2 separate regions of the Homo sapiens genome follow, and region 2 is linked to region 1. The links come from fine-mapping of genetic effects on gene expression. A gene starts in region 1. The other region holds a variant in brackets. All regions are shown on one strand. Distances are between the middles of the regions. Region 1 holds the start of KDM1B (lysine demethylase 1B). Region 2 overlaps KDM1B (lysine demethylase 1B).

Evidence for each region. PIP is the estimated chance that this variant, and not a neighbour inherited with it, causes the effect.
Region 2: its variant is the best candidate, but not a certain one, in a credible set for the expression of KDM1B in whole blood (TOPMed, PIP 0.81).

Annotation. Positions count from the first base shown.
Region 1 is chr6:18,152,913-18,157,438 of GRCh38, reverse strand. It overlaps KDM1B (lysine demethylase 1B), which reads right to left and starts at 2,017. Exons shown (of 22, transcript NM_001364614.2): 1 at 1,868-2,017; 2 at 1,513-1,556. TPMT (thiopurine S-methyltransferase) reads left to right here and starts at 2,362. Exons shown (of 9, transcript NM_000367.5): 1 at 2,362-2,406. RefSeq lists an enhancer at 1,077-1,316 and a silencer at 1,757-2,316.
Region 2 is chr6:18,204,264-18,208,263 of GRCh38, reverse strand. KDM1B (lysine demethylase 1B) reads right to left here. Exons shown (of 22, transcript NM_001364614.2): 15 at 2,600-2,727; 16 at 735-866; 17 at 58-132. Among named protein-coding and RNA genes, the nearest start is that of KDM1B, 51 kb to the right of the region's middle. The variant T/C (reference allele first, on the strand shown) is at 1,727.

The DNA of each region.
Region 1 (4,526 bases):
ACATTTTAATCTAACTGAATACTAGAAAATAGGTACTTAATGCAACAAAGAATTCAAGAAATGGTTAACAAGGAAATGAAAACATGAGCTATAAAAGCCATTATTAAATCTTATCGAGGGTTTTTATGATAGCATATTTTCAACTTTATACAATTGAGGGTTATATGAATCCATTCTCAGAACTTTTGGCACTTGATGTAATTTATATATCTCCACTTGCTGGGTCCTTAGGTCTTAAAATGAAGAAAAAATTTTTAGTATACTAAAATGTCTTCCTTCTTGATTTTTCAAATTAATAAACACACCTAAATATAACCAATTGGTTTCATGCTCAACATTATACATATATTTCTAATTTTTAATTCAAGCATTTAAAATTTGGCTTTGGTTTTCTTTTAATGTGATAAAAAAGTGGGATTTTTTGGTAAATATATAAGTGGATATATCAATATGTAGATTTCATTATAATAATCCCTAGGTTTTTCTGAAGCAGCTTATTCAAAAAGATTTTTTCTTTTTTTTGAGACGGAGTCTTCCTCCGTGGCTCAGGCTGGAGTACAGTGGTGCGATCTCGGCTCACTACAACATCCACCTCCTGGGTTCAAGCGATTCTTCTGCCTCAGCCTCCCGAGTAGCTGGGATTACAGGTGTGTGCCACCACGTCCGGCTAATTTTTGTATTTTTAGTAGAGACCAGGTTTCACCACCTTGGCCAGGCTGGTCTTGAAGTACTCCTGACCTCAAGTGATCGCCCACCTCGGCCTCCCAATATTGAATAATTCAATATTGAATTATTCAATATTCAACATGCAGTTCAATGATTCAATATTAAATCCCCAATTGCCTAGATATCTTTTGTTGATTCTCCCAGCAAGGCAAATAATTATTGATGGTAATTTTCTCATGTACCTCCTGAAGAAGCCTTCTCTCCCACTCGCCTTTCTGCCACTAAAATAGATTTAAAAACACAAAACAAAACTGGTCAAAGCCTTGAGTTATGTGTGTATACGTGGTGTGGGGGATTCCCCAACTGGAGTGGACTGGGGAGTCCTGCAGGCTTACCCAAGGGAAGACTGGACTTCTATGTGGCTGGTTTCCACATCACTGAACCCCAACTTTCTACAGCTGGGTCGGCCTCTTCCTTCCTCTTTCACCTGTCAGCTGCCCGGCCGTTGACTAACAGCTACCCTAATCGGGCCACCCCTCCTCCAGGTCTCCAATCCCAGAGGAGTTACCCCAGCAACCTGGCAATGCTCATCAAGTCTCAACGCGTGGTGGCTGTGCCAGAGAATTACTACAACACCTGCAAGGCTGTGCGGGCTCCTGGCCGCACCCTATCGGCCGGGAAGAACAAGCGAGGGAGTTCCTACTCCAGGACCGTGGGGTTCTCCCGCGGCTCTGACAGTCCCCAGGAGGGAGCCCCAAACTCCCGGTGCCAGCTGCAGCCGCCTCGCTTTCCGAGAAGCTTTCGGAAGCTTTTCGAAGTCGGAGAAGCAACTGCCCCGGGGCTCACCTTTGCGCTGAAGAGGTGCCGGGAGTCTCGGGGAAAAGGCACCGCTGTACAGAAAGGAAACATTGTAGGGGGGTTAGCCGACCGGCAACATCGCGACGAACCCGGCGACCCCACGCCCCAACACCCTAGCCCGGGAATTCCCCCTTCTTCAGACAGATACCCACCCCGCACCCTCTTTTAATCCGGGGCAGGAGGTATCCGTCCCTGGGGCACCCGCCCACCTCCCACCACGGCGAGGGGCGCTGCACAGGGGGAAAGGGAGGGCTTGCACCCCAACCAAGCTGCTTTGTGCAACGCTGTCACCCGAAATCCGCCACGGCCCCCACGCACGCCCCCGGAGTGGGGAGCCTCCCACCTCTGAGCGCCAGCGAGGCGGTGCGCGCCGCCCTGGACTGCGGGCGCCTCTCCGGAGCCGCGCGCCGCGCGCACAGGACGGCTGCAGCCGCGCCGCGAGCCCCAGCCTCTTCTCGGCCGCCGCCGCCGCCGCCGCTTCCGCCCCTGTCACGGCGTGACCCGGGGTGGGAGGAGCCGACAGGACTAGGGATGGGTAGGGTCCCCGCCTTCGCTTTAGCCGCAGCGCTCGCTCCGCCCTGCCCATTTCCGCCGCTGCGCAAACCCCGGCGCTTGGGGAAGTGGGTGGAGTCTGTGCAACGAGGTACGGGGCGGGAGTGGAGACGGGGCGCCGGGAGAGGGGGCGGGAACTGAGGCGGGGCGCGGGAAAGAGGCGGGGCGCGGGAAAGAGGCGGGGCGCGGGCGGAGGCGGGGCGCGGGCGGAGGCGGGGCGCGGGCGGAGGCGGGGCGCGGAGAAGTGGCGGAGGTGGAAGCGGAGGCGTACCCGCCCCTGGGGACGTCATTGGTGGCGGAGGCAATGGCCGGCAACCAGCTGTAAGCGAGGTAGGCTCACTCGGGCGCGGAGGGTGCGGGTGAGAAAGGGAACGATTTGCTAGGAGTGTATGCGCCCGTGCTAGGGCTCCCAGGAATTCTTACAAGCGTAGACAGCCTAGCAATCAGCCCTGTGAAGTGGGGTTCAGGGCAGAAGCGGAAACTGGGAATAACGAGGTCGGACAGTAAATGACCTGAATCCAATGTCCAGGATTTAAAGTGCTTCCAAAGCACTGGTGTGTTTTAATTATTTTTTTTTCTTTTTTCTTTTAGAGACAGGGTCTCCCTCTGTCGCCCATGCTAGCGTGCAGTGGCACAATCATAGCTCACTGTAACCTGGAACTCCTGGGCTCAAGTGATCTTCCCGCCCCAGCCTCCTCGGTAACTGGGACTACAGGCTCGCTGCACCACGCTTGGCTAATTTTTCAAATTTTTTTTTATAGAAACGGACTCTCGGTTTTTTCCCCAGCCTGGTGTATTAGTGATTTTTGGGAAAAAATAAGTACTGCCAAATAGTGAGTGATCCCTGGTGATGTGGGAAACTGGGGTGCTGTAAATATTCTGTCTTGCTCTGCGGTGGTTACACAGGTGTATGTATATGTAAAAAATTCACCGAGTCATACTCTTTTAAGATGTGTGCACCTTAGGAAAGTTTCTTCTCAATTTTATGAAATTTAAAAACAAAACTATAGCAGAAGCTTTTGAAAAGGTGAGAATGGAGACTAGAACAACTTGAGGACTTTGTTTGTGGGCAGAAATTTTTGTGAAATTTCCCTTCCTTAATTCTTGTAATGTGCACTTTTTTTGTATTATAGAAATAAACTTTATTTCTCTAGAAATGATGTATACAAGTGGAGTCCATGCTGAGAAACTGTTAGAACAGCTAAGACGTTGAGCCCAGGAGTTTGAGACCAGCCTGGGTAACATAGCAAGACCCTGTCTCTACAAAATATTTAAAAATTAGCCAGGCATGGTGGTGCACCCTTATAGTCCCAGGTACTCAGGAGGTTGAAGTGAGAGGATCGCTTGAGCCCCAGTGTTGGAGACGGAAGTGTCATTACACCACTGCACTCCAGCCTGGGGGATAGAGAGAGACCCTGTCTCAAAAACAAACAACTAAGACATGATTAAGTTATGTGCATGATTTTGTTAGACAGTTCAAGTTTGTGTGAAAGGAATAGAGTTGTGCTACTCCAGGCTGCTGTGGAACTCTGATAAAGATTATGCTTCTCTTTTAAGTAGAGAACTGCTTTATGAAGCCTTGAATTTAGGTTCCAGAGTTTCTGAATGAAAATGAGAAAACTGCAACATTCTTTTGCTTTTCTGTACCCAATATAAATCAGATACTTTCTACTGACCTCTCAGAAAACTCAGAGTCACCTCCTGATACCATCAGGGTCTTGCAGAAGCCATTTGTCAACAAATATTTGCTAAGAAGTGAATTCATGTTCCCAGGTAATGAGAGAAATGCCTCCTCCCTATATCCTAAGCATACTGAGGCCAAATTTGGCAACAAAAGGGGAAATTTGCCTGAAATACATGCTTTTATGCAATGTTTGCTATTTCACAGATTAATCATTAAATTAGAACCACCAATAATAGCATGCTAGTATAATCCAAACTAGTTTCACTAATGATTTAAAGGGAATGTTAGAATAATGGTGTTATATTGTCCTTAATATTGCAGAGTTGACATTGAAAGGAAAGGCATTTTCCTCATACATTCAGATGGATCTGCAGTTATGGTCTGTCAGCTGAAGAATGAGAAGTTCATAATTTAGAAAGGAGAACTCTTTCTCATGAATGGTTTCAGACTGTAGAGCAGCCATTCTGACTGGCTGAGAAGTGTAGCCGCAGGCCAGAAGCCAGAAACTGACACTTCCAGGGAGGGGCAAAGGGAACAGGAATTTATGCTGAGGAAGGTGGCCAAATATACATATTCAGTAAGCTGTAGGATGACTCATGAATATTTATGAAAGGAGGAAAGTACCCATGAGTAATTGAGCTTCATGGGTACCATGCACAAAAAATGGCGGTGTTACCACAATCACAGGATGGAGTTTTTGGCCCTCTTATATCAAAAGGTGAAGCAGAGGACAGAAAAACCCTTACTGTGCATTCTCAGTAGACTG
Region 2 (4,000 bases), 51 kb before region 1:
CTCCAAGCCCCTGGCAGCAAAGGTTTCTACCCACCCTTGTACTGCCCTAGCTCTTACCTTTTGTGCAGAATACCCTGTGCCATCTGTAGTGGTAACCTGCACTTCATCTCCAGAATAATCAATACACTGCACCTGCTCAAAAAGCAATTATGAAAAAAAGTGAGGGATGGAACCACGTGATCCAGGATCCTTTCCGATTCTCATATTACATGAATTTACATCTCCAAGGCTAAGGGGAATCTTTTCCTGGCATTCAGAGATCTAAACAATTGTTATAGCTGAACTGAGGGAGTTAGAATTTATACTCTGTCAGAATATACAAAATAAACATTGTGTCGGAATATAGAAGATAGTTATAATATGGTGTGAAGGGAAATACAGTTAAGTAATCACCCCCATGATTACAATAACACACAATACAAATGCACTGAGACAAAGATTTGAAGGGAAAATTTTAAAGTGAAAATAACTGCACTGGGTTAGGAAAGTTGCGAAGCAATTTGAATACCTTCTTCTTAATAGAAATGCACTGGGGCCACTACGGTTTCCAAGCAGCAGCAGCTGCCTCACTGACATGGATAATGCTACACAGGCTACGAATGAGCCACAAAAGTACTTCTAGACCCTGGCTAAACACCAAAGCCAGCCCCATTCTCCTGCGTGAGCCGCATGCCCAGAACTTCACATCCTCCCCAAACAAGGCGAGCCAGAGCCTCCCAGCAGTTGATACTCACTGGAGATTTGAGTTGAATGTCAAGCCCTTCTGCCAGTTTTTCAATTATCACCGAGTACCCGGGAGTTAGCAGAGTGTGGTCACCAGCAAACTGGGCAAAGAATTCATTGTGGTCCCACGAGCGAGCAGATACCTGGGAAACAAGAGAGGTTGGGGACACAGCAGTGTAAATCCTTGTGCCTGTGCCTGAGAGCCAATATGAGGAGCTCCAGGTGGGAACAGCCACCAAGGCAGGAGGGCAGGGGACAGGCAGACCAGCCTAGGCAGAGACCACCACTGGGGGAGGAAATCTCGATAATTTTATTTGAGGAAAGTTTATTTGAGAACAAAAGGTCCATATGACTTGGACATGGGTACCACTCCTTGATAAAAATAGAAGCTGATTTTCTATATTGACAACTCTGGCAAAGTAGAATTCTATGAGGGTAAAACTGTATTTGATCAACATATATAAATATGCTATCTGTCCTCAACATGGAAGCTCTACAGAATAGAAACCCTGCACGATTTTGGAAAATAGCATGACTCCAATCACAATGCAGAACCAAGTGGAAATGGAGAGGTCCCAAAGGGGCCTCTGAAATCATCCGTGGAGTTCTATTCAAAATACAGAATACTGGGGTATTAAGTTCACAGTTGGTTAAATGAGTTAGGCAAGCTTAAATTTACTTTAACAAGGTAAACAGACCAGACTTGCAAGGATACTCTATTTTGGCTTCTCGAGAGCAGTGTTTCCGACTCCACGGTTCCACAGAAATGACCCAAGGCCCTCTGCAGAGGGCAGGGAAAGGACGGTAAAGAGACAAGTCCTGGTGCAGTGGCTCATGCCTGTAATTCCAGCATTTTGGGAGGCCGAGGCAGGAGGATCACTTGAGACCAGGAGTTCAAGACCAGACTAGGCAACATGGCAAGACCCCATCTCTACAAAAAATAAGAAAAACATAAGAGACCCTGATCTGATTCAGCCCAATAGCCCTCCTTCCTTTGGAGTGA[T/C]TGATTTCTTTTTTCTCCCCCTAGACAGGGTCTCACTCTATCGCCCAGGCAGCAGTGTGGTAGCACCATCACAGCTAACTGCAGCTTTGAACTCCTGGGATCAAGCAATCCTCCCACCTCAGCCTCCCACTTAGCTGGGACTACAGGCACATGCCACTAAGCCCAGCTAATTTTTTGTATGTTTTGTAGAGACAGGATTTTGCCATGTTGCCCAGGATGGTCTTGAACTCCTGGGCTCAAACAATCCGCCTGTCTTGGCCTCTCAAAGTGCTGGGATTACAGAAGGGAGCCACTGCACCCAGCCTCTTCCTTTGTTTTTACGTATTGAGCTTCTTTCACAAGCATTATCTGAAGAAGAGTTTCTCTTGCTTAAAAAAAAAAAAAAAGTTTAAAAAACAACCAAAACCACTGTGGGGTTAATATGCTCAGAAGTCATGGTTTTCAAACTTTTAAGGAGAATCATTCTTTCCTGTTTATCGAAACCAGCTCAAATTCAATATTTAGACACACAAAACACACACACACATACACAAAAACAAGTATTTTATTTATTTATTTATTTTGAGACTCCAGGCTGGAGTGCAGTGGCGCGATCCCAGCTCACTACGACTTCCGCCTCCCAGGTTCAAGCGATTCCCCTGCCTCAGCCTCCCGAGTAGCTGGGACTACAGGTATGCGCCACCAGGCCTGGCTAATTTTTTGTATTTTAGTAGAGACAGGGTTTCACCATGTTGGCCAGGATGGTCTCGATCTCCTGACCTCATGATCTGCCCACCTCGGCCTCCCAAAGTGCTGGGATTACAGGCGTGAGCCACTGCGCCCGGCCTAAACCAAGTATTTTCAAAGCACACCTTTCACAAAACCCAAGCGCACCTGGTGAAGGTTGCTGCCACAGGCGTACTCCAGGTTACTGAGATGGAACTGAAGCACCTGTCCCTCCAGCTCACTGAATTGGATACCAGATTCCTTAATAAATGCCTTGTAGATTTCTTCTATCTTTTCTGTAATGGGAATGGATCAAAGCAGAAAAAAATAGCTTTAACAAGATTCTCCAATTCTTTCTCCTTTGCTTTCAACCTCTGTCACCCAGCAACACCCAAAACTTCCAAAGTCTTTTCCCAAGTAAAGTCAGAGGGGAAAAGATCTCTTGATAAGGTCCATTTCTCTCAGGAAGAGAAAGTTTATCTTTTTTTTTAATTTTATTATTATTATACTTTAAGTTTTAGGGTACATGTGCACAACCGGAAACAAAGCTATGTAAGTTCTATATCTTCAGAAACGTCTCAATTTCGCTTCGTTGAGAAGTGGTTTCCTCTTTTGCTCAAGATACAGAAAAACTGTCCCCACACATAGATGTACATGCACACACACAGAAGTTACCATTCTCTTTCTGGTCCTGCTGCCATCACCTTAAAGTCAATGCTTACAACATCTCACCTCAACTAAGAGACCTGTAACCTATTGGCTACAGTCTGTCCCAAACAAGAATATTCCATTATGGGCTTGTATCTTGTCAGCACTCCGCCTCCATATCTACAATTACTGGTTGCCTATGTAATAAATTCCCCAACCACAGCCAGGCAAAGCTAGCACATTTTAATCTTTCCAAAGGCAGCAGCTACGATCTGCCCACTCGCAGGCTCTGCTGTAATGCTTTGAATCTTTTTCCTGGTAAATTCCTACCCTGCAGGGTCTGCGACCTCCCACTCTCCCTCATGGGAATGCCTTCTCCCACCCAATCCCATCCATTCTTTATAGTCGGGCATCACCGGGCCGTGGCAAGCCCCCAGAATTTCTCCCTGTCATCAACTCCAGCCCTTACTTATCTGTCCCACTCAACCGGACCTTGTAACTATATGGACACAGCCCTGTGATATCATTTTTGTCTTACATTCCTTTATAGCAGGGCTGGAAGAGGGTTCTGGCTTGATGTCTGACTAATTCTAAGCATCTCAGTACAGGTTACTTCTTTACAACTGTTCCAGTGATGACAACCATCCAAAACATGTATCACAGACTCCACGTTTCTTTTTCTGGTGGTGTTTTCTTTTTCTTTTTTTTCCTGAGATAGGGTCTCACCATGTCACCCAGGCTGGAGTGCTGTGGTGCCATTCCGACTCACTGCAGCCTCAACTTCCGGGGCTCCAGCAATCGGCCTCCCAAGTAGCTGGGACTACAGGCGCCCGCCTCTATGCCCAGCTAATTTTTGAATTTTTAGTAGAGATGGGTTTCACCATGTTGCCCAGGCTGGTCTCAAACTCCTGAGCTCAAGAA